Linked DNA regions of Homo sapiens: regions 1 and 3 are each linked to region 2. Evidence: fine-mapped expression QTL. A gene starts in region 2. Each other region holds a variant in brackets. All regions are shown on one strand. Distances are from middle to middle. Region 1 holds the start of LOC124905106 (a long non-coding RNA gene). Region 2 holds the start of LARGE1 (LARGE xylosyl- and glucuronyltransferase 1). Region 3 overlaps LARGE1 (LARGE xylosyl- and glucuronyltransferase 1).

The links. PIP is the estimated chance that this variant, and not a neighbour inherited with it, causes the effect. A credible set is the group of variants that fine-mapping cannot tell apart.
Region 1: its variant is the best candidate, but not a certain one, in a credible set for the expression of LARGE1 in whole blood (TOPMed, PIP 0.74).
Region 3: its variant is the best candidate, but not a certain one, in a credible set for the expression of LARGE1 in atrial appendage (GTEx, PIP 0.80).

The regions. Positions count from the first base shown.
Region 1 is chr22:33,216,047-33,226,236 of GRCh38, forward strand. It overlaps LOC124905106 (a long non-coding RNA gene), which reads right to left and starts at 5,739. Exons shown (of 2, transcript XR_007068071.1): 1 at 5,556-5,739. It also overlaps a transcript of LARGE1 not described here. The variant G/A (reference allele first, on the strand shown) is at 5,671.
Region 2 is chr22:33,916,032-33,926,221 of GRCh38, forward strand. It overlaps LARGE1 (LARGE xylosyl- and glucuronyltransferase 1), which reads right to left and starts at 4,445. Exons shown (of 15, transcript NM_133642.5): 1 at 3,964-4,445. It overlaps LARGE1-AS1 (LARGE1 antisense RNA 1), which reads left to right and starts at 5,194. Exons shown (of 2, transcript XR_001755630.2): 1 at 5,194-5,492; 2 at 6,376-7,024. RefSeq lists silencers at 3,973-4,072, 4,343-4,492, 4,813-5,312.
Region 3 is chr22:33,560,162-33,570,351 of GRCh38, forward strand. LARGE1 (LARGE xylosyl- and glucuronyltransferase 1) reads right to left here. Exons shown (of 15, transcript NM_133642.5): 6 at 4,687-4,858. Among named protein-coding and RNA genes, the nearest start is that of MIR4764, 130 kb to the left of the region's middle. RefSeq lists an enhancer at 5,799-5,868 and a silencer at 9,482-9,776. The variant C/T (reference allele first, on the strand shown) is at 5,771.

The DNA of each region.
Region 1 (10,190 bases), 700 kb before region 2:
TTATTTTTTTCCATATAGATAATCAGTTGTCTCGATGCCTTTTACAGAATACTCCTTCCTTCCTGCATTGTTCTTCAATACTAGCTCTGTCACGTGCTAAATGTCCATATGTGCCTGGGTCTAGTTCTCTTTTTATTCTGCACCATTGTTCTGTTTGCCAGTTCCTGCACTAATAATACCACATGCTATGGTCTGAATGTGCCCTCCCCCACAAATTCTTGTGCCAAATCAACAGTGTTGGGAGGTGGGACCTAGTGAGAGCTATCCCACTCTCTTGAGTGGATTAAAAAGGGCTTGGGGGGCTGGGCGTGGTGGCTCACGCCTGTAATCCCAGCACTTAGGGAGGCCGAGGCAGGTAGATCACAAGGTCAGGAGATCGAGACCATCCTGGCTAACACAGTGAAACCCCATCTCTACTGCAAATACAAAAAAATAAGCCAGGCTTGGTGGCGGGTGCCTGTAGTCCCAGCTACTTGGGAGACTGAGGCAGAAGAATGGTGTGAACCCAGGAGGCGGAGCTTGCAGTGGGCGACAGCGTGACACTCCATCTCAAAAAAAAAAAAAAAGAAAAGAAAAGAAAATAGGGACAGTAAGACAAGGATTGTAGAAAGCAAAACAAAAACAAACAAGAATTAATGATCATTTCACCATGGAGGGCAACAGAGTAAAGCCCCAGTGATACTCTCTTGAGATACCATGTAGCACATGACCCCACACTGTCCCACAGAGGAGCTATCCCATCTGCTGGGTAAAGCCCTCAGGCAGAAAAGAAGAAAGATACATGCAGGAGACTGCAGTGGGAAGCCAGCATAGGGCTTGGACATGTGGGAGCTAGAGGCAAACTCAGGTAAGGCAAGGAAAATGGAGCATTTGCTGCAGGTGCTCAGTCTCATTAATAGGAAAACGTAGATGAAAACAACAATAAGCATTTCACCCTTCTAAGATTGGCAAAAGTTAAAACGTCGGACAGTACTTAGGGTTGGCAAGAATGTGGAACAATGGGGACTCTTTCATGAAGGCTAATCAACAAGGATGGATAGAACTGGACAAGACTTTTCTATGCAAATGAAGCTCTCCCACATGTACACAATATTCATAGCATCATACAAAAGAATCTGGAAGCAACCTAAATATCTATCAACAGTAGAGTGAATAAATAAATTATGATAGGTAGTTAACAATATCTAACAGCAAAAAAAAAAAAAAAATAACGAGCAGTAGTTCTCCAGGACTGATAGCATTGGCATCGTCTAGGAACTTATGATAAATATTCATTCTCAGGTCCTTACGTAGTCCAACTGCAGAAACTCTGGGGGTTGAGCTCAGCAATCTGTGTATTACCAAGCCCTCCAGGCAATTTTAGTGCACACTAAAGTTTGAGAACCACTGAAGTTGAGCTATGGCAGCACAGATTAGTCTCCCAAACATAATGTGGGGCAGAAAGTCAGGTGCATGATAATACATTCATATGACACCATTATAGAAAATGTTTAAATATTCACTATATTATTATATTGCCCATGAATGCATACATGTGAAGTAGTAAAATGAAACAGAAATGCATGGGAACGATAAATACTAAGTTCAGGCTGATGGTTGCCTCTGGGAGGGAAATGAATAGGATATATAGTTTGCAGGAGTATACAGAGGACTTCAACTATATTGATAATATGGTATTCCTTAAATAATTTACTGTATTATTCCTTATAATAGGAATAATGGTTTAAAAAACATATAACATGAAATTTACCATCTTAACCAGGATCTCACTGTGTTGCCCAGGCTGGTCTTGAACTCCTGGCCTCAAGTGATCCTCCCCTACTTAGCCTTTCAAAGTGCTGGTATTACAGGTGTGAGCCACTGCAACTGGCCTTATCATAACTTTTTTTTTCTTTTTTTTTTAGATGGAGTCTCACTCTGTCGCCCAGGCTGGAGTGGAGTGGTACAATCTTGGCTCACTGTAGCCTCTGCCTCCCAGGTTCAAGTGATTCTCCTGCCTCAGCCTCCCAAGCAGCTGGGATTACAGGTGCCTGCCACCATGCCCAGCTAATCTGTGTATTTTTAGTAGAGGTGGGATTTCATCATGTTGGCCAGGCTTGTCTCGAAGTCCTAACCTCAGGAGATCCTCCCACCTCGGCCTCCCAAAGTGCTGGGATTACAGGCATGAGCCACCATGCTGGGCCCCATAACTTCTTAATTATCTTCTTGAATACTTCATTTTTCTGACATTTAAGTCACCATCACTCACCTATATATTCCAACCATATTAAACATCCTCTGCATATTTTTTGTCCTTTCTCTCTGCCATGCCTATATGCATACCATTGTTTTTGCTTGGAATGCCCTTATCTCATACCTTGCATGCACAAATACTATTCATCCTCCAAAACCCAGTTCATAGGTCAATTCTTTGAAGTCTTCCCTGATTTCAGTATTTGCAAGTGGTCTCTTCCCTCTTCCAAATCCCCATAACACTCTAGCTTCTCCTTTTTCGTGGTACTCACATCTGACTACCTTGTTGTCTGTACATGCCATGATCTCCTTGGGACAGAATTCATAACTAAGAGCTAAAATGTATTGGGTGCCTACTGTGTGCCAGGCACTGTACATATAGTACTATATTTATTTGCTCATATGATCCTTTTATCAACCTGATGAGGTAGGCAGTGTTAGCTCCATTTTACAGATAAGGACAGTGAGATTTAGAGACTCAGCCAAGTTTACACAATGTGGCAGAGAAGGCTGTGGTCTGGCAAAATGTATTGTTTCATTGCCATAATATAGAGTGGTTGCATGGAAGCGGAACCTAACATGACTATTCCCCAGCCACCTGGCATCCAGGCAGGACCTGTGACTAGTTCTCAGCAATAGAATCCAAGTGGAAGTGATGTGTGTCCATTCCAAGTGAAGGTATTTAAGAATCAGTTGTGCCTTTCCCCACTTCCGCCTTTATCTGCTATCTGGATGCAGAGAACTCTAAGGAGCCCACCGTAAAGAAAGGCTCTTGAATCTCTCTGACTACACCAATCAACCAGGAATATCCACCTGGAAGCACCACCTACATGAGAAACAAATGTATTGAGGCACTGAAATTGGGGAGTTTATACAGCAGCTGGCATTATCTTAACTAATTCAAACAGCTACCAAGGGGTGGAACTAGGCTTCAGACTGAGAAAAGCTTATTTTAGAGGCTGTGATTGGTATGAATCCATATCTATAAGATCAGAAGCCTGCACTTTTCACCACGAAGCCAGTGTCTCTCATCGTGTCAGTCAAAGGTCATTTCTACAAGGATTACAAAGCTGCCTGTAAAACATGTAGACATGGGACCTCACTCCAGATTTTCCAAATTAAAATCTTTGGTATTTGTGACAAAAATCTGCCTTGTTAACAATCTTCCCAGGAGAACCTGGTGTACGCTAAATATTGAGAAACTTTTCTATGAATGATATTGTCTCCTTCCTAATATTCAGCACAGTGTTTTACAGAGAATAGGAGATCAGGCAGCATTGCATAGGTGAATGAACAAAAGTGTGAGCCAATAGGGCATTTCTGTGGAAAGGGACCCCAAACTTTCCATCTCTTCTGGATCCTAAATCCAGTGCTGATTCCTTAAATCCTATTGGACAGCATCCCTCAGGATTCATTCTTGAGTCAGAAAGGTGTTCAACCATTGCCAGAAGTGACCCTCTACTATTCATGATGCTGAAGCCTCACTTTGAAGCTGCCAGAACTCAGACGCCATGCCTGGTGGATTTATTGCCCAGCCTGCCCACGGAGCAGGTAATTAGTTTGAAATGGAGAGCAACAATGAAGGTCAAACTCCCCCACTGTCACAAGGGACAGTTTGTTCCCAACAATTTCTCTCATAAAGGACCTGGAATCCTCCCCTCACACAGCCTTAGTCCTGAGAAGAGAGAAAAAAAGAAAAGAAAAGAAAAATACTTTCTCATAAAAGTCCACTCTAACCTTGATTTTTGTTGTAGCATTCTACAAGGGCTGATAACTGCTGGGATAATACAACGGATGGTGAATTTGATTCAATCCTGAATTCCGCTGCAGAGGGCTCCTGTGAGAACCGCTAACCTATCTTAATGGAAGAGGACAAAGAAAGGTCACCTTTGGATTTGTGAGGTCACGCACAGCTCAGGAGGAATGAAATTTACTGAGTTTGCTGCCAGCTCAAGCCATTTTCTCAAAATGACCATCTCTCTAGGGAGAGATATTATGCTCATACTGTTAGAAGCTCGGAGGCTAGGTAATAAAACAATATATGTTTGCTGTTTTGTCAGCTTTGGTTTTTGCTTTAGCAGTTGTTTAAAACGTGAAAAAAATCAAAGAAGAACAGAAAAATAAACAAGCAAAAAGACTAAAGACAGAGGGAAATGGAGAGTCAGCATACGAGGGGGAAAGAGCAGAGTGAATATAGAGACAGATAAAAGAACAGGGTGGAGTGAAAGGGGAAAAAAATAGATTCTACCTCCCTCCTTTTTCATTTGAAGAAAGCTTGTACGTCAGCTTTTCACTTTCCTGATCCATAAAAATTGTCAGTGACCCTGTTTCTTCTCTCCTCTGAGCCTGGAACAGGTATTGAGGGATAATCTTAGAAAGTTTTAAATTGCCTGAGCACGGCGCTGAAGCTGCCCATTGACTACTGGGAGTCTGGTGTGTTCAACAGAGGATGCAGCACAGAAAAGGAATCAATCTCTGAATCTTGTACCTTTATCAGCCCATGCTGGCTGCCCTCCTCCCTCTCCTACCATCTCCTGGAAGAGCTTTCAGCTGAATCCTTCATGTGCACTCTCTCGGATAAACAGTTGCATGTAATCCCTTGCTATGCAGGGGACAGAGATTCGGCCTTGCATGGTTAGAGCAAGGATTCTGGGCTCTGATTTCCCCATTCCTCCCTCTCTTTCTCACTCCCACAGGAATGAGGCCCTGAGAAACTGGAAGGTCAGGGAAGATTCCTGTGGGACCCCCACAGGAAGATTCCTGGGTTTCCCCCTCAGCACACCCTCCCCAGACACACCTGACGGCAAAAGCAGACATCCTCCTATCATTAAGAAACTTATAAAATTATAATGTCCTTCTATCTTCAGCTTAATACCTTGCCGTTGTTAAAAAGAGAGAGAGAGAGAGAGGGAATAACACAAAGGAATTAAGCAAAAGGCTATTTCCACACACGATTCTGATTACAAATTTAGTGCTGTGTACATCTCTAGCAAGGTCAATTACAAACATCGAGGGGAAATGCCTGTGCCGGTTTTTTTCCGTATCTCAATTCTCTCTCTCCTGCCAATCCTGATATTCTTCTGCAAGGGACCACCTGCTGAGTAAAGGTTGGGACATAGTTTTAAGTCAAAAATTTTGCTGCTTCTTAGCATTAAAAAGATGCAAGTTATTTAAAACTGGGTATACATCTTCAAGGTCACTATTCTGGAATTTAAAAATCAAGCAAATGTTGAGTCATCAAAGGAAATTTGCATTTATTTCAATAACTGAGGAAAAACGACTAGAAAAAATGTAACCCAGCTTTTAGATGGATATCTCCTTACCCCCAAAAGATGGATTTATATCGGCTTATACCTCTCCCCAGTCCATGGCCTGTGGAAGTCCAAAGCTCTTTTCTTGTGTTTTTGAAAATTCTTGGAATCTTCCTTTTCCATTCCC[G/A]CCTCTACTTCCTGGATACTGACTCATTGTGGACTGCCTCTTTTCTGGGCTTTGGGTTGACCCAGATATGAAACTTCCTGAAACCTCCACTCACCAAATAGGAACCAGCCCCACCAATCATCTGTGAACACTAAAGTCTTTACTAAAGATTTTAAAAGGGAAAGGAGGTTTATATGACAGCAATAAGAACACCACAGTCCTCCCCCTTCTTAAAATATCTATGGGCGGGCTACATATCAACTAAACATTTTCACTGGCCCCTCAGCTTGTTCCACTTAATTCTGCTGGCTCTTTGCCATTTTTCTCCCTCCCTCTCTTTTCCTTCCTACCTCTTTCTGGAGCATTAAAATGTAATTTCTCTCTATTTCCACTAAAGCCTTAGCTCTAGCCAGCATGTGGGTTGGGTGACAAGGGAAGGACTCACCAAGGAATCATTTCGAACACGATACTTAAAATACATCTAAGAAAAAAGAAAAAGGGCAGAGAAGTTGGTGGTCACCACTGCGTAGGACCTTTCTGTGCCTCCAGGGTGCTGCACCTGAGTGCTCCAACAGGAGAGACAGCCAGGGTTAGGGGTGAGGGGTCTAGAAGGGAGGGTTACCAGCATGAGCCTGGGGTCTGCACTGCTGAGAAAGAAGGGCCTTGGGGGAGAGCATTTATCCTCCATTCTTCATGTTTTCATATTGCAGCATGTTGAATGGTGCCCCCCCACAAAAAATATGTCTATATCCTAATTCCCAAAATGTGCAAATGTGACCTTCTTTGGAGAAAAGGTCTTTGCAATGTAATTAAGTTAAGGACCTCGAGATGACATTATCCTCGATTATCCGGGTAAGCTCTCAGTCCAATAGCAAGTGATGTTGTAAGAGTCGGAAGAGGAGACTCACACACAGGAGGAGAAGACCATGTGAAGACAGAGGCAGAAACTGGAATGAGCAGCCACAAGCCCAGGAACCCTAGAGCCACCAGAAACTGGAAGAGGCAAGGAGTAGAGCCTTCAAGGGGATCATGGTCTTGCCCACACTTTGATTTGGGACTTTTGGCCTCCAGACTGCAATAGAATAAATACCTGTTGGTTTTGGCACCTGGTTTTTTGGCAATTTGTTACCGCAACCCTAGGGTACCTCATTCACACCTAGAGGGGCCTCCATTTGAGTAATGTTCCTGGACTTTTTCCCCAGAGGGAGCAACATGACTTAAACTACAGAGTTGCAGGCCCCCCCAGTCTCCCCTAAATGGGGTCTGCCTACCTGCACCCTTTTTCTCACCTGCTCGCTTACGTGTTGTAAAGAGCCTGCCCCTATCAGGGGAGACGCATGGGTGTGAAGTTGTGCCAGCAGCTGGATGAATAAACGTGCCTTATTCAGGGTTAGTTAGCAAGATCGCTTTCCAACAGGCTGACCCACTTTACTCCAGTATCATTCATAATAACGGTGATAGTTTCATCTCTATCTGCCTGATTCTTTGGCCTCTCAGGTGGAGAAAGTAGACTGTTATTCGTTCGCTTCCTAAAGCCTTGAAATAAGTCAAAGGGGCAAGGCAGAAGCTTGAGCAGAAAATGAGCCAAGAATTTGATGGTAGGCAACATCCAGATTTAAAAAAACCGTGATACCTCACGTGGTGCCTGCCAATTGGGCATTTCAGGGATTGGCCTGTGCATTTGCTATAGGCACCTTTTCTTCAAGATACTTTACTTCCATCTACTAGAAAATGGTTATAGTAGGCTGATTGGGATAGAACCAGAGAGTTTACTTTCATCTGCCTGGAATCGCCACAATTCAGGTGCAAGCAATGCCTAAGATGAGAATGACGCCCTCCAGTGTTGTGTGGTGCCCAATCTGTCCTGTGGTCAGTAAGTGATGGTTCTTATACCATATTAGGGAAAAAGGTGATACTCATATGCCACATTTCTCTCTCCCTCGTTCAACAGAAGCAGCCCTCATGCAATTCAGCCCCTCAGAGGTCACCTACTGGATTAGGCTTGCATGTCAATGACTCGGTTTAGACTCAAGGAACCGTACTTGTTATACACTTATCTAAAAATGTCAAGTTCTGCCTGGACCAGCCTTTGACATTATCTTACTTTAGGTCTGGTACCAGACCCTTCCGCTTAGAGTCACAAAGCACCTGGCCCTGCAGCTTGTTTTTGCTATAGGACAGTCAGTCAATCCCAAACAATTCACAAATGCTCACCCAGCCCCACCATTGGTCGGCATCCTCGTATGCTCACAGCCACCTCTATGCCCCCAGCTCTGCAACAGCCTAGCACAGTGAGGGGCACATAGAAAGTGCTCAGGATGGGCGCGGTGGCTCACGCTTGTAATCCCAGAACTTTGGGAGGCCGAGACTGGCAGATCAGGAGATCGAGACCATCCTAGCTAATGCAGTGAAATCCAAAAATTAGCTGGGCGTGGTGGTGGGCACCTGTTGTTCCAGCTACTCGGGAGGCTGAGGCAGGAGAATGGTGTGAACCTGGGAGGCAGAGCTTGCAGTGAGCCGAGATCGCGCCACTGCACTCCAGCCTGGGTGACAGAGCAAGACTCTGTCTCAAAAGAAAAAGAAAAGAAAAAAGAAAAAAAAAGAAGGTGCTCAAAAAGTGCTGGATAAATGCCCTGTATGACTAGACAGCTCAGCTTCCTCCCTGAGTCAAATTTGCCTACATGGTATTTGTTCATAGATTGCCTTCATGACTTTTTCCATACCCATATTGTGCCAGCGCTATTATCTCCTTTAAATTGACTCACTTTTTGCCTCAAGTGATTTGAGTAAAAAACCTAACCTAAGGAGAAGCTCTATATTCTAAGAGAAAACAGGTGTCTTTCTACTACAGTAAAGTGTTCAGTCCAAGTACCATGGAAAACCATATCATCTATTACCTGTTGTGCACATATCACACTTTGAGTAGTGTGGGCCTAGGACTCGGGTCCACCGTGACCTAAACCGAGATCCAACAAGCTCCCTGGTGCCAGCTGAATAATGCATCTCATCCCAACCTGCATGCCTTGTCAAAGGCAGCACAGAGTGTCACACTTGTTAGCAACAGGACAAAAAGATGCTGGTGTCTAGAAGAACAAGGAGAGGCAGGACACAGGCTCACAGGATGTCAGCCCCTGTCAGAAGAAGACAGAGCCAGGCCTGTCAGCCAGAGGAACTGAATCAGAACAATTATTCAAAGTCATTTGTTTGGAGGACAAGGGAAAAGAGATTGATTTTTCTTCTTTTGCAGGAAATGCTTAGGTGAGCACAGACCCTGCTGGGTAGGCAAGCACCTGCCAGGTCGCTGACTGGAAACCCAGGTAATTCTATACTCCACATTTTCTGGATGAAGGTTCCTCTGGCATGGGCTGTCAGGGATGTCAAATGGCTCATTGAGAAAGCCTCTGCTCAGCATGCCAACAGAAGACACTGCTTTTCCACATCTACTCTGATGTCAGGGAAGAGGTGTCCCTGGGTGCTACAGCCGTGGGCATGATAGAGACCAACCAGGAGAGGCAAGGTAGGACGGTCTGCTTGGCAAAGCGGTTGAGGCTGTTCTGGGCCTGGGAGCAGGACACAAGGAAGCCACTGCCCTCTCGGCACTAGTTCTGGGTGCCTTGGGAGGACCTTAGTTCACAAAGGATACAAAAGAAAAGTAAGGAGATCAATGATTGAGCATTTACAATGTGCTGGGCACTGTGCTAGCTGCTTTAAGAATAAACATTGGATGCCCATATTCTACAGATGTTCAGAGTTAAGTCTTTATTTTTAAATAATCAGATAATATAAGCACTCATCCTACAGCTTGCTGGAAGGCCAGGGCATTTTCCAGGCATTTCTCTTTTTTTCTTTTTATTTCTTTATTTTCTTTCTTTTTTTAAACTTTTATCTTAGGTTCAGGGGTACATGTGCAGGTTTGTTATACAGGTAAACTTGTGTCATGGGGGTTTGGTGTACAGATCATTTTATCACCCAGGTACTAAGCATAGTACCCAATAGTTATTTTTTTTCTGACCTTCGCCCTCCACCCTCAACTAGGCCCCACTGTCTGTTGTTCCCCTCTATGTGTCTATGTGTTCTCATCATTTAGCTCTCACTTATAAATGATAACATGTGGTATTCTATTTTCTGTTCCTGAATTAGTTTGCTAAGGATAATGGCCTCCAGCTCCATCTATGTTCCTGCAAAAGACATAATCTTATTCTCTTTAATGGCTGCATAGTATTCTATGGTGTATATGTACCACATTTTCTTTATCCAGTCTACCATTGATGGGCATCTAGGTTGATTTCATGTCTTCACTATGGTAAATAGTGCTGCAATAAACATTTGCATGCATGAGTCTTTATGGTAGAATTTACATTCCTTTGGGTATATACCCAGTGATGGGACTGGTACATTGAATAGTAGTTCTGTTTTTAGTTCTTTGAGGAATTGCCACACTGGCATTCTGAGAATTTCCAAAGACTGCTTTATGTTTCAAAAATCTTTTTGCTGCTTGTCACCTCTCCTATTGGGCTGCTTCTCTGAGCTTAAGTCCATTC
Region 2 (10,190 bases):
CAGCACTTTGGGAGGCCGAGACAGGTGGATCACAAGGTCAGGAGTTCTAGACCAGCCTGGCGAAGATGGTGAAACCCCGCCTCTACTAAAAATACAAAAATTAGCCGGGCGTGGGGGCGGGCGCCTGTAATCCCAGCTACTCGGGAGGCTGAGGCAGGAGAATTGCTTGAACCCGGGAGGCGGAGGTTGCAGTGAGCTAAGATCATGCCACTGCACTCTAGCCTGGCTGACAGAGCAAGACTCCATCTCAAAAAAAAAAGAAAAAACAAACAAACAAACAAATAGCTGAATGTCTGCCTCCCATAAAAGACTAGAAGCTAAATGTAACCTGACTCTGTAACCTCCACACAGAGCATGGCACCTGCCACAGGGTAGATGGTCTATTATTATTTGTTAAACGAAAAGATGAAAAGTCTTATAAAATACATTTAACGAAGCCTTTCACTCGTTGCTGCCTGCTACTCTCCATACGCCAATGTGACAGAGAAATGCTGAACACCTCTCAATGGCAAATACTCCATGTAGAGCGACCTCACCAACACTAAGCAGATTTTCCAAGGTGGCTGTATCCCCGAGGTGTGTCAGTGGCAGGGTGTCTAGAGCTCTCAGCCTTTTGGGTCTTATATCCCCCACCCCCAATGCAGTATGCTCCTCCTTTCTGAGAATCTCTAGCCAAAAAGACACCTTCATCTTGTTCACGGACCGTAAGGAAGGCCAGCCTCCTGCCTCTACTTCTGCCACCTGGCTTCCATCAAATTCATAAGACTTCATTCATGTCTCAGGATGACAGCATATATTCTCCACAGGATCGGTCTTCAATCGTTGGTGCTCAATGGCAAATGCGATGGTATTTTCCTGTTCCAATCTCTTACCCCTTGGCTGTACTGTGCCCAAGAGAATCAATCTATAAAGTCTTAATGTTAGAAATAAAGCTGTCTGCTGACCATTTTTCCTAGACCACAACAATAGCTCCCCTTCAACTACCTAAATGTGCACTACACGTATGGGTAAAGGGTCACAAATGCCGTCTACCAGACCCCAGAGTTCAAGGGAAAAGTAATAACTCAGGTGGGTTCACAGGTTTCAAACAGAGTCTAACTCTACATGCTGAACTGGGCCTTTTAGAATCCAGTGTGACCAACATCTTGGTGATATCTGCCTGTTTTTGTGACAGTATTCTAAACTAAGCAGGCTCTTCTTGGCCTCTACCTTGCATCTTTCCTGTCTCCCCGCTACTCCCACCTCTGGGATCAGCTTTGATAAGACTTAGCTACTTGGGTAAACCTAGGCAATGGGGCAGTCAGTGTTCTTCAGGGAAGTAGAATTATCTTCCAATTCTGCTGGAAGGGCTGTGGACATTAATGATTTCATACTATTAAAAGTGCAGACAGCGTCTGAGGTGGAAGTGCAACTACACCGTCAAATGTTATGTTAACATCTCTAAGTATACGGAATGTATTTTTAAGGGGAATTTTAAGTTTGATGGAGTCCACTGCAGAGACATTTTGAAGCCATGTGATTTTATGATGACTGCAGGGAATATGCAGTCAAAAACCAAACACCAAAAGTGTTGATTACAAACTGTTAGGGAACTTAAAGTTAGGATGGTCTAATATTCAAAGGATAGAGCCTTTTTGTAGTCCTTAAATACTTAGAGATTATAACTGAGTCTTTTCAGAATGTCACATAACATTTTGCAGTTAACTGGTTCTGAGTTGTCCAAATGACAATTTAGATGTGAGCAGGCCCATCCCTTAGGCACTCAGAATCCACTCACTAGTGCAAGCATGTACTAGATCCCAAAAAGTTCATCTCAGGAACCCTCAAGATAAACCACAGTCTCACGAACCCTCAACATAAACCACAGGCTCATGAACCCTCAAGATAAACCACAGTAACATGGGCCCTGGTGTTTTCTTCTTCGATGGTGGAAAAGATAACTAGTCCCCCCTAGTGTCCTGCTACTGTAGGTGGCTGAAGGATGGCGACACTACAGGACGCACCCTCCCTGCACTGTGCATCAACTTTAAAGCGCAGCTCAGGAACCCAGAAACAAAGGAAACCTTCGTCACAACCTTCCCAAGAGATGGAAGCACTTCCGAGACCTATGATGAGATGAAAAAAACCTTTCATTTCATTTCTAAGGCCCTTCCAGGTATGGTTTAAAAGCCAAAGGAATCTGCATTGGCTCACATCAAAAAGTTAATCCACACCCCAGCACACTTCATTAAGTGAAGCAGGAGGGCCCACACTTGTCAGCAGCTACTGCTCACTCCAGAGCAATCCGATCTTCCCGTTAAAAACCTCTCTCTCCTGCCAGGGGGATTTGATTCCTTTCCTCGCCACTCTTGAAAACCCACTAACCTCTAAATCTTGGTGATTTTTGCCTCTCTGTTCGAGTGAGTTTTCTTCCTGGTATGGAATTAACAGGGACAGGCTCGATAAATGTGTTCTCCACAAGCAATTTTCACTAAAGTACTCTTGAACAATAAAGGTACACTAAGAGATGTGTGAAATCTTAAAGCTGGCGTTTTTATTTCTTTTATTTTTACCCCTAGGGAGGACCAAGCGTGCCAGTGAGTAATTCATTCATGTCACCCATTTGTGAGGGATGGGAGAAGAAACAACCACCACTTGTTCCCTTCTTAATTTAGAAGCTTTCCTTATCTTAAGTCTATCAAAGCTGACTCCTGAGGTGGGAAGACAGGAGAAGTGAGAAGAAAAATTAACCCGAGGTGACTGCCTCCACGGAATGATAAGCACTTCAGGTCTCCACACCTGTGTCAGAGAAGAAAGGCATCTGCATGTCAGGGAGGCGGACGCCCCCACCTGCCACCCCCTCCGTTTCTCCCCTTGAAGGAAGCAGGAGCCTGATCTCCCCCCACTCCCTCCTCTCTCTCTCTCTCTGGGCACTTACATAAGACCCTGTAAAACTTCCAGTGACATTCACGAAAAATGTAAGCTGCTATTTTGCTCCCTCAGGAGATCATTTTAATGGACTGAGTGACAAAATTCACGGATTCTGAATTCAGCAGAAACCTGCTCAACCGAGGCACATCAGCACAGAGACGAAAAAAAAAAAAAAAAAGAGTCCAACCCCATTAAACAGGGTCACCCAAGGGATGGATTCAGTGTGCAAGAGACAATCTGTTCCCTCCGAAGTGACCCATTTAAAATCAGATTGTTCTGGGGGAAGCTCACAGGTTTAATAAATTTCAAACAGGCAAGGACAGGCTTGTACAACTGAGGTTCCTTAAGAGGAACATTTAAAAGAGGATAAGGCAATGAACAAAATAACTTGAGGATACACAAACTTTGGAGTCCTCACTCCAAAACTTCAAAAGCAGTGACATTTACAAGAATGTCTGGATAGCTATACACTGATCACTCCTCACAAGCAGCTTTGACTAACAGGAAGGACATGCTGGCTGGGCTTCCCCCCTACAGATAGCAATGCCAACCAACCACTCTGTCCTAAAGAGGGACTCGCAAGCTGTGGCTGCTCGCCCCCAAATTGCGCAGGACTGTCTGCAAGAAGGAACAAGAAAAGTTATTCACAGCATCACACCACGAAAGGTAGTTGCGTACCGCCCAACAGGGCCCTCTCCAAACACGGCAGGCTCCGCGAACCACAGGTGCTCACCGCTAACAAGAGGGCCGGGGGTGCGGGTATCGGTCACATGCCCTCGTGGTGTTAACCAGAAACTCCTCCTGGCTCGCTCCCTGCCAGCAGCCTGTGTGCCCAGAAGCCGAGCAGGCCCTGAGGGGGTCCTGGGGACTTCGGAGACTGGGGGCTTCCACCTCCAGCCTCTCCAGGGCTCCCGGCCGGGGCAGCAGAGGGTGTGCCCGGCCTCCCCGCCGGCATCCCGAGTACAGGGGGTACCAGCCACAGGTTCGGAGAACTTGTCCGGCGCTACACACCACGGCGCCCCCGCGGCGACTCTCGCGCTCCGGGGCTCTTACCTTGGCCGTGACTGCCGCCAGGCAGAGGGAGACACGGAAGAACAGGGTGGCGCGGCGGCGCCGCCGCCTACGAGGCGCAGGGGGTCCGGGTCAGGGTCCCGGCAGGCGCTGCCCTACTCGGAGCGGCGGTGCCAAGCACAGAGTTCGGGACTGCCCCCGGCTCCAAATGCCGCGGCGAGGGTCCGGGTCCCCCAAGCTGAGCACTGTCCCTTCTTCCTCTTCCTCCGGGGCCGCTGCCTGGAGCTGCTCCCGGCCCGGGGGACTCTTCCGAGCCAGGGGCGCCCCGCATGGGCAGGGGCCTGGGTCAGCCTCGGGTTGGGTCCAGGGAGCGACCGCCGGGGCCGACTCCACCTCCCGCGCTCCAAGCCGATTCGTCCCTTCAGGGCAGGGCCTGCCCGCGAACAGCCCGGCGAGACGAGCGCGGCCGCGCCCCCAGCTTCGGGCGCCCGGGCTCCGGCGCGGCGGCGGGGCAGGAGCAGACTGGCCGGGCCGGGCGCCGAACGCGGCGGCGCGGGGGGGGCTGCAACCGGCCGCGGCGCGCTCTCCCCCAGGGCCTGCGCCGCCCGCCCGCGGCTCCGCGGGAAAGAAGCGCCGGAAAAGGCCTCGCCCCGGCCTGGGGCGCGGGGCCGGGGGCGCGGGGCTAGGGGAGGCGCCCCGGGAAGGTCACGGGAGCGGAGGCGCGGCGAGTGGATCGCGGCGCGGTGGGTGCGGGGAGCCGAGGCGGGCGGCCCCCGCCGCCGGGAGCGCTCGCCGGCCTTGGCCGCCGCCGCCGCCTCCGAGATGCGCCGGCTTCCCGGAGCGCCCGGCGCTCGGAGCTGGGCGGCCGCTGCAGCCGCCGCGGGCAGCCGGGCGCCGCTGGCCGGAGCCGGCGCGCGATCCCCGCCTCCCGCGCCCGGCCAGGAGTGGGCCGCCGCGCGGGAACCGGCAGGGGCGGGCGCTGGGGTCCGGGCTCCGGGCTGGCCCCGCCGCCTCCGCGTGCCCAGAGCGCCGGACTCGCTCAGCAGCTGCAGTGACTGTGTGTCTGTGTCATGTCTGTGCAGCCGGGGGGGACCGCGAGCCGGGGCTGGGTTCCGAGCGGGGGCGGGGCCGGCGCCCGCGTCGGCGCCCGCCCCCGACCCCGTGACCGAGCGGCCGGCCAATGGCAAGCGCCGCAGCCGCGCGGACCGAGAGTTCGCCCCCGCACAGGCTCCGCCCCCCGGCGAGACTCCGCCCCGGTGCTTCTTCAGCTCGCTGGCTGGCAGGCAGGCGGAAGCAACACCCGGAGCCGGGATCCCGGGCCGGGTCGGGATGAAAGGGTGCAAGCTGGGAGCTCCCCGCCCTTCTTCCCCCAACCCCGGCGGCTCCCGGCCGCCTCGGGCTTGGCGTGCCTCGCGGAAAAAGGGGGAAGGGAAGCGGGACGGGCCCGCAGCTGCCGTGGTAGAGAGGCTCGCAGGCTTGCAGGACCATGCAGCCTGCTCCCCAAATTGCACAAAACAGCCGTCGTGAGAAGTAGGAAGTTTCCCCGCCTCGGGTCGCAGCTTCTCTCGGAGGTGGGCATGCTGTGGGGCAGCCGGAGTCTGTGAGGAGCCCCGCCGAAGGGCTCTGACGGCATCTTTCTGGGATCGGTATCCAAGAATCCTGTCCAAGGCTTCCTCTTCCTCTGAGGAAACTACATTTCTTTTTCCTCCACCCCAAACACACACCCCATGCACGCACAACACGCCCCTCCCCTGCTGATTTTATTCTCGCTCTTTCCCTCTTGGCATAAGAACCCGGCGCGCAACATCCCTTGAATGGACTTCCAGCCTCCCAGTTCTAGGGACCAGGGTGGGGGTACGGAGAGTCCTCCCGAGCCACAGGAGAAGTGGGTGAAATGGGTCGGGGCACAGGAGCGGGGGTGTGAGAATGGATGGAAGGAGGATGCCCTCGAGAGAAGACCCAGAGGAGGCGAAAGCAGAGAGGCAGGGAGAGAAAGAGGACGCCGAGAGCTGCACAACTCGGACTCGGAGACCGGAGCTCCGGGCGCGCGATCCAGCTCCCGGGTTTTTCCGCAGCTCGGTCCCAGGGCTTCTGGGGTCCCCTTCCCCCCGGGTCTCCACCTCTCCCCAGCCGGGCGGGCCGCCGGGTCTTTGCCTTCCCTCTGCGCGCCTCTCCGCTCTCCAGGACTCGAGCGAGGCAGCGGGAAGCCCACCCTAGTTCTTGGAAGGGGCAGGGGAAGGATGGGCTGGGGAGGGGGCGCGCGGGAAAGGGCCGCCGAGCTTGGGTTGCCCAGCTGACCCCACTCCTCGAGGTCGGGCTGGGGGGGTGGGGCGGCAAGGGCTTCGGAGGCTTGGCCCCTGCTTGGCTCCGGACCTGGCTCCCGCCTCGGTAACCACACTCTCGGCCTTTGGCTTTACCGAGCTGGGACCCTTCTCCCATCCCCCTTCCCTCCAGCCTCGTGAAACAACGACCCCCACCAGCAGCAGCAGCGCCCGCTTTGCCCCGGCTCCGGAGCGCTGTTTACCTAATCTCAGCGGCTGACCGAGCCCAGCAGAATGCGAAAGGGAGGCAGCGGTGGTACAGCAGCGTCCCCGGCGAAGAAGTAAAAGACGTTTGCTTTGGAGCTTCGGGATAAGTTAACTGCGAAGCTGGGGTCCTGCTGTCTTACCTCTGCGGCGATGAGCCTCACCGTGCACGTTGGCAGGCATAGCAGATTCTGTTTCTGATGCCATTACCGTGTCGGAGAAGAACATTATATGAAAAAATACTATCTAATATCCTAGAGACCATTAAAGTGTCAAAGTTTAATGCCAAGTCTTTTAGCTCGAAGGCTGCTCAGTTCTTCCTCTGACGTGCAGCTCTGTTCCAGAACGCGCTGAAAACAAGGGGATCATTTTTATTTTTTTGCCGCCCGAATGTCCTTCCTTCCTACTCTCTTCCTCCTCTCTCACCCCTACCCCCTCCCCGGAACCGGGTAAAGTTAAAGGGAGAATTTGTACTTTCTTTTTACGTTTTGCTTTGCTTCACTTCATTAGTGGTGTAAAATGCATTATTACAGCACATTAGCATATTAATAAAGGTAACGTGACTGAGGAAAGGAAAAGACCTGAAATTTACAAGCGAAGGAGAAATAGTTGAATAACATCAGAAACTAAAAGATAAGCTTCCGGGAAAGAAACATCTCCATTATAATGACTCAAGTGTAGTACATTCTCTAGATGGAATCTAAGAAAGAAAAATGTGACCATGGTGTGGGAGCTAGCAATGTTCACGCTGGTCAGTAAGGCACGTTGAAGACATAATGCCTTATTAGTGGATTTCACAAAGTGTACTTGCATTGGTCAATAAGCACCTTAAATGTGGAAAAGCTTTGTTTTATCAAATCAAGGTTGCAAGTGCCTGCAGTCAGTGGCATAGCTAATGCTCTAAATGATATTAATGTTGTCAGACTGAAATGTGCCACATACTGAGTCCTCTGGTTAGTACATCAAGCCCCAGGTTTAAAGTATTACGTTGGAAAATTGTAAAGCTCCTCAACTCCCCAGTCCAAGCAACTAAATATGTATATACATATACATGGAAACCCTGAAGTAGGATGTAGTTACCAGGAATTATAGCCTTTTGACACAACCAAGATACAAATGTCTTAAAAGGATTTCCGCTACGATATAGTATGAGAATGCAGAATAAAATATGTAAAGTGATATATCTGTTATTTGTAAAGAATGAGCGCAGCTTTTGCTGAGAACTGAAAAATGAAAAAAAAAAATGAGCTATCTAAACCAACTGTTATCTGTTTATCTCCACACAGTTATTGTACCTGTCACTGAAGAGATTCGGAAAGGTCTCTTATTTTTTATTAGGGTCAAGGAGACCGAATCCTAAGAAACCTGAGGTCTTAAAGCAGCCACTAGGGGGCCCTAAAGGCATCTCAAAGAGGAAGCCAGGAAACACTCTCACCTCCGTTTTTCTGTGTGCCTGATATTAGGAACTGGGGAATCTAAAGGCACGTTAAGAACACAGTGCACTGTAGTCCCAGCACTTTGGGAGGCTGAGGCGGGCGGATCACATGAAGTCAGAAGTTAGAGACCAGCCTGGCCAACATGGCGAAACCCCGACTCTACTAAAAATGGTAAAATGTTCCGGGCGTGTTGGTGGGCGCCTGTAATCCCAGCTACTCAGGAGGCTGAGGCAGGAGAATTGCTTCAACCGGGGAGGCGGAGGTTGCAGTGAGCCGAGATCGCACTCCAGCCTGGGCGACAAAAGCAAAACTCCATCTCAAAACAAACAAACAAAAACATAGTGCAAAGTTTGGAGGCAAATCTAGTTTTATGTAATAAATGACCTGAGTCCAATTTTGACTCCTAAGTCAATTTAGTTTCTCAACTCTTTTCTCACCTCCAAGAAAGGAAATATTGTATCCTTGAGAGGAGGGTTACCAAATACTCTTAACTGTCTCAAAGTCGGCACAATTATGTTTGCCATTCCAAACAGGACGTTCTTTCAAAGATTTGAGGACTGTTTTCTGAATGTTTTGCACATTCTTCAAGAGCTACATAACAAGACGATTGAATTCTCACAAAGAGGATATTTAAAAGATTAAGCAACCTGTACAGCAGGGCACCCACCTGCCAACTTAATTGAAGTCAAGCCAGCCACAGGGGCACTAGCATTAGAGCTGAGTCCTGAAGGCTTCTGCTAGGCCAGACATTTATTCTTTAGTGCTGGGTTCTGGTGAAATGGTGGTGTTGATGTTGGGAGGAAGGAGTGGTTCCTGCAGCAGGGGTGAGGAGACAGGGTATAGTGGGAATGGCAGCCAGTGGTAGTGGAGGGGTGATTACTCCAAGGGCTACTTAGCCAGTATGGAAGGATTGCAGTATCTTAATTAATGTTATATTTATCAAAACATCTAAATGTCGGGTCTGATCCTACAGAAAGCTGCCTAAAATTTTTAACTAGCAATTAAATTTTCATGGCTTCCAGATCCTTAGCAGTCACATAGTATTTTTTCCATATCTTACCAGTAGGTAAAGTTAAGATGTCCTTTATGAGAGTCAAGAATCAAACAGCATTCAGATAGCACAGGTTTGAAAAAGCCTAGTTTTCCTTAAACCAATGCTAGATAAATATCTGCCAAAGATGCTCTGTCCTGACACACTTCAAGCAAAAATTTAAGCACCGGGCATGAAACATTGCTCTTTTATTTAGGCCAATAATCAAAAGACATTGCTGAACAAAACAAATGTCTCCATCCGGGCTAAGCAAAGAAGAAATCACCTGTTAGGTAAAGAATGAAAAAACATTGCAAAAGCCACCAAATTAACACTAATGGAAGTGTGATTTGAACATAATTTAAGTAAAAACAAGCAAGTCCAGAATGGAGACATGAGACAGGGAATGGGGATAAAGTCTTTCTTTGTGGAATGAAACTATTTTATGCTGACATCATCATGTTCATTAACAGGCGAGATACAGGTATGCTCAAAATAGCATTATTAACCTCCAGAAGACTTGCCCCTGCAAAGCTGAGAGCCAGCTAATTAGAACAAATTTGGCTGTAGATAGAGAATCCCATTGTCTTTTAGGAGAGAGGGTTTATTCACTCGCCAGCTGTGAAAGTCCGTCAGAGTAGGACTTTGTCAGGTATTGGCTCTCTGACCACCTTATGATAAAATGCTGAACTGGGGAGTCAAAGCCCCTCTAGAGACAGAAAGAAAAAAATCAGTGCCAAAGAGGTCAACTCAAAGGACAAAGGGAGCTTTTCTTCTCAAGGAAAGGGGAGCTCAAGCTAGTGGGCCATAAGATCCTCAAGACAAAAATGAAAACAAAAAATTTAAACATTGGTAAAAGCACCAGAGTCCTGAAATGAAACATTATGACATATACCTTTTGGAGCTCTTTAGTGTGAAGCCCTGTTTAAAGGGTGTGTTTTTATCAGTTTCTGTTTTCTCCTCCCTCTGTTTAAAAGAGCTATGAGGCAGAACATCTCAAAGTTTACTGTGTAGCCAGATCACCTGGGGAATCTTGTTAAAATGCAGATCCTGGTTATGTAGGTTTGGGGTGAGGCCTGAGATTCTGCTTTTCTTTTGTTTTTTGTTTTTTTGTTTGTTTGTTTTGAGACAGGGTCTCGCTCTGTCGCCCGGCTGGAGTGCAGTGGCGCAATCTCGGCTCACTGCAACCTCCACCTCCCAGGTTTAAGTGATTCTCCTGCCTCAGCCTCCTGAGTACCTGGGATTACAGGCACCTGCCACCACGCCCAGCTAATTTTT
Region 3 (10,190 bases), 360 kb before region 2:
ATCAGCTCCCAAATCTCTAAAATAGGAACATCAACAGTAATCACTTCATGGGAGGGTTGTGAGGATTAAATGAGTTTATCCATAAAGTCCTTAACAGAGTGGCTGGCACAGACTAAGTGCTTAAACATGTTAGTTGTAAGGAACAACACAGAGTCTATTAGGCCCTGAATGATACCCAGTGGCATGGCACATCTGCGGTGCCGTGAGGGTGAGGAAGGCAGTGCCCATGTACGCTGGATAGTTTGACCATACCTGCTGTAGGGTGAGAATTTTACTCTGTGGCACTAAGATCCTCTTAGAGGGGAGGCATCTGTGCTTATGGATCAAATCACTATCTTGAATATTCAGCACGGCCTTCTTCCAAAAGCTTCAGATTATGGGTGTGTATTTATTATTTATGCCTTCACAACAGCCTCCCCAAATGACAACAATCACATATTATTTCCAGTGTTTTGTGCAGTAAAAACTAAGGCATGCAGGGGTCCAAGGTGACACGTACTCAGCAGTCACACCCGTTCTAAGTGCAGTACAGCCTCCTGGGTCAGTGGACAGAGCACAGACTCCAAAGCCGTATGGATTGGGGTTCAGTTTCACTATGTAATAGCTCTCTGAGCATGAAAAGTAATTTAATCTCTCTTGAGCCCAGTTTATTTAACTTTTTTTTTTTTTTTGAGACAGAGTCTTGCTCTGTCACCCAGGCTGGAGTGCAGTGGCGCCATCTCGGCTTACTGCAAGCTCTGCCTCCCAGGTTCACGCCATTCTCCTGCCTCAGCCTCCCGAGTAGCTGGGACTACAGGCGTCCGCCACCACGCCCAGCTAATTTTTTGTATTTTTAGTAGAAATGGGGTTTCACCGTGTTAGCCAGGATGGTTTCGATCTCCTGACCTCGTGATCTGCCGGGCTCGGCCTCCCAAAGTGCTGGGATTACAGGCGTGAGCCATCAGTTTATTTAACTTTCAAGTGTGCAAAGCTTCTAGCTCAGTGCCTAGAACCTAAGACGTGCTTAAGAAATGGTAGTTAGCTTTCCCTCTGTTTTACAAACACTCATTTAGCCACCTGCCTCCTCACCAGCTCCACCATTGTAATGGTGTGTTGAATTTGCGCCTTCCATTGAAGAACCAGGGGCTGCCCCAGGCTGGTTTTCTCTGGTACGCCAGGGAGAGGACAAGGTCAGGCTCCCAGTGGCAGAGTAGTTGGTAGTCAGACAGGTGTAAACTGAACACAGGTCAGACAAGAGCTGCAAGGACATCTGCCTATGAAAATAAGTTTCCCATGTGAGGGACCCCTGCCAGGTATACCAGAAGTATCTCGTGAGAAGCATACCATACCCATGTCCAGCTCCCCTGAATGTTCTGTTAGGACAGGGCTGCTAGCCACTCTGGTACTAGCACCCCGGTGTAGCTACGGGCTCACCAAACAGTCTTATTCTTGCAACAGTCCCAACAGTAAGCTATTTGGCACCTAGAAGGAGCTCAGTAAATATTGACCGAATGGGTGGCTCCTGACCCTGGCCAATAATGGTATGTCTGATTCTTTCTGCTAAGAATTGGTGGTTCTGAAAATCTTCCAGCTGTTGGTGCAGGCTGGGTAAAGGTGCAAACCGCTGACATAGGAGGGAGGTATCTGCTACTTAGCTGAAGTCGAGCTCAGGGAAGATGGGGACATCTCTAAGAGGCTTCTTCTGGTAGAGGCTGAGGATGGGTCTAACTCCTGAAAAAGGCTTCTTTGTAATTCTCCCGGTAATGAATTTAGGAACAAGGGGCTTTCACAGCGCCACAAAGGAATCAAGCGCAATCTGACCAAGAGCCACTGCAGCCCCAGACAACCAGCTGTTCTCAAAAAGTGAAAAATTAGCCAGGCCACATTGTATCAACATCACTCCAACCGTTTACAGTGAAGGATGTCAACGACAATTGCCTTTATGAAGGACACTCTCTCTTGGATCAGAACATTCTACATTTATGCGCCTGACTTAACAGGCTTTCTTCCTATTCCATGACCTGGCTTCTAATAGTTTGGTTTAGAAAAACAATCACACACATACAAAAGTGATACAAAATAGGGACATATGGAGAAGAGATGAGCTTTACTTATTTTCTTTTCACCTCTGTATTTTTCCAGAAAAATTAGGGTGGGCATGGGAAAACTTCTGATGTTTTGTACTCCTTTGCTGGTGATAGATAAAAACGCAATGCACTCTGCCTTGTTTCTGAGTTCCTTGAAGGCAGGTGCTGTGTTCTCAACAGCTTTAGGGAACAACAGCATCTAATCTATTCCTCTTCACAGTGGGGGCCTAACAAATGCTAGAAATAAACCAACAAAAGAATGAACAAATAAAATGCAGCCCATTAACTCAGCTCCTTGCATTCAAATTTACCTTGTCCCTGTCCTGACCTTGGCCCATATACCCTACTCAACCCCAGGAGCTGCCTTGAATCTGAGAGTCCTCCAAATCAAGTCCTTGGGCCAGCTATGGGAGCAGCAAGAGCTCTGGTGCCTTCCCTTCCACGGATGATATCAGCGTATTTAAAATAACCATGACAATTCACGTTGTTATTGGCTACAGAGCGCCACTAGCACTATAGCCATTGCAAGCTGCAAGAGAATAAACGTGATTTCCTAGCTACAGCTCTACAATCTCTGATGACCTGTTCTGGTGACTATGGTGGTTATACTTATCCAACGGAGACTTACAGCTCTAAATATATGCTGTGGGTTGAGTTTCTTTGGAAAAAGACCCCGAGATGGATGTCAGCATACAAGAGGTTTATTAGAGAGAGCTCTTGAGAACAGCACCTATGAAAGGGAAGGGGAGAAAGCAGGACTAGGCAGAGGGGAAAATCAGCCTGTGAGGCAGTATCCGAGTGTGGCAGATGATCCTGCAGGACCTCATGTTCATCAGCCATTCCGTGATGTGGGGTGTCCCACGAAGGGGTGTGGCCACAGGCATGGCCACTCACTTCAACAGAGGCAACTGCAAAAAGGGCTGATGCCTTTTCTGAGAGCCCCCGCTGCAGGGACTGCTCCCACCAGCTGGCGTAATAAGGCCTTTATTCCCAAAGGAAAATGTGGGAGTCTAGTACATACGACCACCATTCTCATCTGATGAGACAGAGCACAATTAGGAGCTCCTCCGTGACACCTTCCCAGCTACCTTCTCTAACCCCCTCTAGGAGAGGTGACAACTCTCACTGTCCCCTCATTACTCATCTCCTCATTTGCAGAGCCCGTCACACTGCTTCACACCCAGTAGGGATTCGATAAACGCCAGTTGAAGAAATGCATCACTGAACACTCAACATCAGCATAAGAAAATGAATAAAACACCATGTAATTATAGAAAAACTGCCCCTCGTGAGTTCACTGTGATCAGGAAGAGAAAAACAAACAGACACGATAGGGGAACTTGAAAAGAGCAGCGGATGGAAGCCAAGACACGGGCACTCTGATCTCAACTCTGGGAAAAGCCTGCATCCCTCTAAGCTTCCGTTTCTTTCTTTATGAAACAAAAGGACACGTCCACACGTTCTATGAAGATTAGAGAGCTGTGCCATACTCAATTTCAACAGCTGTCCTAAATGATGTCATTGTTAGTGTCATTATTGACACGAATAAGAAAAGTAAATTTTGATCCTGATAAGGGAAAGAGTCCCGGGGATCAAAATGTCATTCCCATGATTTGGTGAAGACTTTCCTCAATTAGCCCAGAGCTCAGAAGCCCTGAGAAGGAAGCAGGGAGTGACCAGGGCAAGCAAGGAAATTTACTCTCTGTTCATGAATAGAAACAGAAACCAACAGGAATATCCTGTGATTTATGAAAATGCTGGGATTTAAAATCATTAAGTAGTATTTTGCTTTCATAGGATATGGAGCTAAGAGGAATGGCAGAAGGGATTTTAAACACAGAAGGGGCTAGCGTGCAATTAAAAAAATATATAAAACTAAAAATTTCACTGTCGAATTTCTTTCTCATTGTACTCATCCAGTATAGAAGAATTTTTAAAATAATATAATTTTTAAAAAGACATCTGGGAGAGGGGTATTAAAATAACAGCCTAAGATTTGTGCTAACCTGCCACTTCTCTCACATATCCATGCCACAGTTAGTACACCTACTGAGCTCACAATTTCCCCCTAGGTACTCTCATATACCTTGAGGCCGTGACGAGAGTTACAATAATAGCTATAAAGAAACCCACCAGACTAGAAAGAACGTCTTGTAAAGAAAGCCAAATACATACATCTCCTTAAAATGATAAACCACAACGTTAATGAAAGCAAAAGCCATATGAACATTTTCAAAAACTCTAGAATCAATACTCATCTCTACTACCTCACAGGCTTTCTTGGCAATTAGACTATCCTTCGATAAAAAGAAAACCAATGAACACACGTCCCGACCAGTATGTGAACACTCCGCTATCTGCATACAAAATACACACATTTGATATTTATCTGTTAAAAACATCTTCATTTACTAAAGACATGTAAACAAGTTTCTGTTTTACTCTATTATTTTTCAAATCCAAGCAGAGTTGATATTGAACCATATTTGTAATTCCTCACCCACTGCATTAGCACGACCTCATTCGAGGAGACCTCACCTTTTTAAAAAAGTCAACCCCTATTCTTGGCATGCTGATACCTACAAGGATATCGGGGAAAAAACGAATGGGCTACCATTACCTTTGAACTTGTGGAACACAGCCCACAGCTCTGCAATGTCAGTGGCAAAGGTGATATCCGTGTCAAGGACGATGACTCTCTCCAGGTTGGCAGGAAGAGTCTTGGTCAGGACAAGCTTCATCAGACCATAAATCCCAGAGTAATGTTTATTGGGGATCCAGGAAACTTCAGACTAGACAGAACAAGGCAGAGAGAGAGTTGGAGAAAGGGAAAAAAAATTGCTATATTAATTCTTTGCTTAAACATTATAAATAGTGCCTAGCACACAAAAAGTATCCAATAAAAATTTGTTGAATAAATGAATGAGTTTTCTTTTAAAGATTTATATAATTTGCATTTTGACATGTGAAGTTTTCTGGAGGAAAATGTATCTGAATTAAGGGAGAGGAAAAGTAATAGTTATGAAATAATTATTACTGCAAATCCTATGTTGAGATTTTTAAATAAAACTTTTGTTATTATAGAAATTAAATAGATCCACTAGAGAAAAAAAGGATATGCAAAAACATAAAGGTCCAAAAATTGAATCCCACTACAAATACTTTTGCAACCAGTATCAAATTGTTCCTATGTACGTATATTTCTTTAAATCATATTCCATTTACGTGTCATTAAAGATTAGTGGGCAGTAGTATTGTTAAAGCTTATGCTTATTCTTTTAAAACTGTAATTGAATAGATTACTACTGCTGCCTTCTCTTTATTCTCAGATAAATAAGAGGACCTAGTCATCACGCGACACTCTTCACCTGACAGCAATAGAGGACACACACATAGGACAGAAGGAGGACCTAGTCATCACGTGACACTCTTCACCTCCTAGTCAAGGAGGACCTAGTCATCACGCGACACTCTTCACCTGACAGCAATAGAGGACACACACATAGGACAGAAATGAACCACCCATGGAGCACTGACATTATGATCCTCACATAACATAATGGAACAATCAATGGCTTGCAGGTGGGCAGAGTCATCAGCGAGGTACACACACGGGTGCCATTTTGTGTCCAAAGGCAAGGATAAAAATAAAAGCACCAGTGTGATGAAAGCTCTCATCTATGCACAGTCATTTATGAAGATCA[C/T]TGTGGGCAGAGGCCCCAACCTAGCTGCCATGGGGAGTTTCCATGGGAGCCAAAGCACACTTATTTTCAAGAGGGTAACACTTTTAATAGAACCCTTTAAAACAGGGAACATGGCCACCTTCTCAGGATTCCAAAAAATATTGATCTCCTTTGACCTTACAAATACCATGTTGAGGAGATGTTCTTAAAAAAATTCAAATTTAAAAATTTTGTTTTAGACACCAAAGTTTTATTCCCAAAGATGTTCATCACCATGTTACCAAAGAACAGCCATCAAAATGCCCCAAAATGGAACAATTAATTCAAACATGATACTCTTGTTTTTCTGATAGCATACTATGTAATTGTTTAAAACAATGTGGATCAAGATATAATTTCTAAAAACCTGCATATGATGTTAAAGGGGAAAAAAGCAAGCTTTAAAACTGCTTTTACTTAAAAACAACTACGTGTAATCAAACCAAATGAAACACATTCACCCAAATCTATGCAAAGGAAGAAAAAAATAGCAGCAAGACATCAAACTGTGTGCGGAGCTGGCTCCTTCCGGGGGGTTCTTGGTCTCGCTGACTTCAAGAGTGAAGCTGTGGACCTTTGTGGTGAGTATCACAGCTCTTAAAGGTGGCGCAGACCCAAAGAGTGAGCAGCAGCAAGATTTACTGTGAAGAGCGAAAGAACAAAGCTTCCACAGCTTGGAAGGGAAGCCGAGAGGGATGCCGCTGCTGGCTGGGGTGGCCAGCTTTTATTCCCTTATTTCTCCCTGCCCACATCCTGCTGATTGGTCCATTTTACAGAGCACTGATTGGTCATTTTACAGAGTGCTGATTGGTCCATTTTATAAAGTGCTGATTGGTGTGTGTTTACAATCCTTTAGCTAGACACAGAGCACTGATGGTACATTTTTACAGAGTGCTAACTGATGCATTTACAATCCTTTCGCTAGACATAAAAGTTCTCCAAGTCCCCATTTGACCCAGGAAGTCCAGCTGGCTTCACCTCTCATCAATTTCAAAAAAAGCATCCCCAACTCTGTGTATGAGTCCCTGTCACCCTACACCCAGGCATCATGGAGGTGGGGAAAAAGGACAGAAGTTCAAATCTGGGCTCTAGCCCCACACAAAGCATTTGATCTCTCTAAGCCTTGGTTTCTTTACCTGTAAAATGGAGTGTGTTTCAGAGATGGAATGGGTCTCATGAGTCAGCATGGGGAACCTGTCTCATAGCTGCCCTAAATTGGCCTCCTGTGTGCCACCATCACTAGACTATGATGTTAGAAAAAAATGTGGTTACTTAGTTTTTTTTTAAGAGTAGTTGCTCATTTTTAAAAGTTGGTAAAATGGAGACGATGCCTACTTCACACAGTGGTATAAAAATTAAATTATATTAAAGGACTCAAGGGCGTGGTACACAAAATATACTCAGTAATAAGCTCCCGCCCTTCTTCCTGATCCCTCTATCTTATTCCATGTATTTAGCTATCAGTGCCTCTTTTGGTGCTTCCAGATGAAGGTAAGGGTCTGTGGGATGTATGCAGGAGAGCAAAACACCCTGGGTGGTAGATTCAGGCATGCCTGGATTTAGATTCTAGTATCATCACTTAATCGCCATGTCACCTTGGACAGGTTTGCTCAGCTTTTCTGAGTTTCTGCTATTTATAAAGGTCATGATTTCTTTTTTAAAAAATTTTTAATTTTAGATTCTGGGGGTACACACGCATTTTTGTTACATGGGTACACTGTGTAATGGTGGAGACTGGACTTCCAGTATACCTGTCACCTGAATGTTGAACACTGTATCCAGCAGGCAATTTCTCACCCCTCACACAGCTCTCACCCTCCCCTCTTTTGGAGACCCCAGTGTCTATTATTTCCAGCTTTGTATCCAGGTATGCCCGTTGTTTAGCTTCCATCTGTAAGTGAGAACATGTGATATTTGATTTTCTGCTTCTGAGTTAGTTCACTTAGGATAATGGCCTCCAGCTCCATCCATGTTGCTACACTTACTTCATCCTATCAGGCAGTGTGTGGGTGGAAACAGCACACTCTCCTGGGGAATCTAAGGAAGATTTAATAAAAGGACTATTTAATCTAAGTATATGCAGAATTAGGGGCAGTAACAAGAACCGTGCAGTTACTTGAGGAGGGGAAGAGTACTTGGGGCCATTACCACCCCAAGGCCAAAAGGGCCCAGGCCAGCAGATGCTGGAATCCAGAGAGAATTGCTGTTTGAGTAAGGCCACCTGGCTGAGGCAGTGACCTTCAGCAGAGGGACACAGCCTACCTGTGGCAACGCATAAGCCAGAACAGGAAAAAACATCTCAACCTCACTTCCCTCCTGCCCACCAGTCTCCCGGGAGGGCAGCCCTCCAGTCAACCCTAACGGAAACCAGAGCGAAAGCGAGACTAGAGATGCTTTATGCATCAGCCTCATGGAGCATAAAGTGAGGGTTACGGCAAGAGAGGACCTAGAAGGAAAAACCTCACACAACCGAGTCATACAGTTAACACAAGGGCAAATTAAATGAACAACAACAAAATCAAAGCACAATGCCCTGGCTGGGCGCAGTGGCTCACGCCTGTAATCCCAGAACTTTAGGAGGCTGAGGTGGGCGGATCCCCTGAGGTTGGGAGTTCGAGACCAGCCTGAACAACAGGGAGAAATGCCATCTCTACTAAAAATACAAAATTAGCCGGGTGTGGTGGTGCATGTCTGTAATCCCAGCTACTCGGGAGGCTGAGGCAGGAGAATCACTTGAACCTAGGAAGCGGAAGTTGCGGTGAGCAGAGATCGCACCATTGCACTCCAGCCTGGGCAACAAAAGCGAAACTCAGTCTCAAAAAAAAAAAAAAAAAAATAAGCACAATGCCTTGTATATAATAGGTACAAAACACATATCTGGAACAGATGGATGGATGGATGGATGAATGCATGGATGGATGGATGGATGGATGGATGATGGATGGCAGGCAGGCATAGGAAGGCGGGCGATTTGTCTACAATCCCACAGCCAGCAAGATGCAAAGCTCTAAGAGTCAGAATTTGCCAGGAGAAGGTTTGTGTTCTTTCCCCAAACTACATTATCCTTCCTTTAGAGTGAGCCATCACCGTTAAGATCCGAGGACTCAGTGAGGAATTCCCTCCCATGTGCTTTATAAACATCTTCCTCATGAAAGCCCTGGCCTTTGGAGCTCAGCTCAGCTTCCTCTCTCCTCTAGCAATCTGCCTGAACTGAGGCTTGGCAATCATTAGTCCATGCTGCAGAGCTGTGCTATTTAATCAGACCTTTGATTAACTTATTCATCTATTTTGGTTACCATCAAAGCAGGAGAGCTGGGTGAAGACTGAACACGAGAGTGATGGGTTAAGCTGTCTAATTAGATTGCCCTGACTCTCCGTTTTATTTTTAACACACATGTGAGGCACTCAGTTACACTGCAAAACAGGAAGACTACAGGAATAAATTAATCTCAACATGAGCCCAGTCCTGAATGTCACTCCAAGTCCCCAACTTAATACATAATCAATTAAGTCCAAGTGTTCAATTAGTTGTAAAGGAGGCAATGGGATGAGTTTGTATTCAGAAAGAAAGCCCCAGGAAAAGGTGGAAAATTAAGAAATTTGGTGGTGGGGAAAGAACAAGTGGTAAGAAGCAGGTACATTTATTACAAATAGCTCACCCTCTTAGAGACGGCATGATATCTAGCACTCTTCCCCCACCTCCATCCACATTCTCCCCCTCTTTCAAGTCTCAACTTAGAAATCACTGCCTTCCAGCCACCCCCACCCCCACAGCCCCAGGCTGGATTAGGGGCTCCCAAAGCAAGAAGCAAGCTGTTTCCCTTCCTCCAGCACAGCATGTTATCCTGCTGGGTTCAATTTTCCATGCCCCTCTCCTGCACTTGACTGAAACTCCTTGAGGCAGGGACGATGTCTTTTTGACTGTGGTAACAACACAGTAATTATTCAAAAACTGTTTGATGAATGTGCATGACTACGGAGTCAGCCAGGCCTGAGTTCATTTTTCTCTGATATTTTCCTCACCTAGGAGCAGAAGTGTTCATGATTGCTAAAATCCAGGGTCAGGACAGAACAACAGAAGAGGCATAGTTTGTTGAGCCCTGAAGCCTGGGCTATAGAACTGGTTCTACTTTTAATGAGCTGTGTGACCTCAGGTAACTCACTTAACCTCCTTGAGTCTTAGTTTTCTCATCTGGAAAATGGGGGCCTACAATGTTATAGTATTCACAGGAGAAGGCACAGCATCCAGCCTCATGCGGGGCAAGCAACAGGTCTCCTCTAAGCCCACTTCTCCTCTCAGTGAATGCCTGTCAGCAATACCGAAGTTCAGATGACTCAGAATTTGGGGCATGATAAAAGCAGCAAATTCTGGTACCTTTGAAAGTAAAGGGGAAGTCAGGAA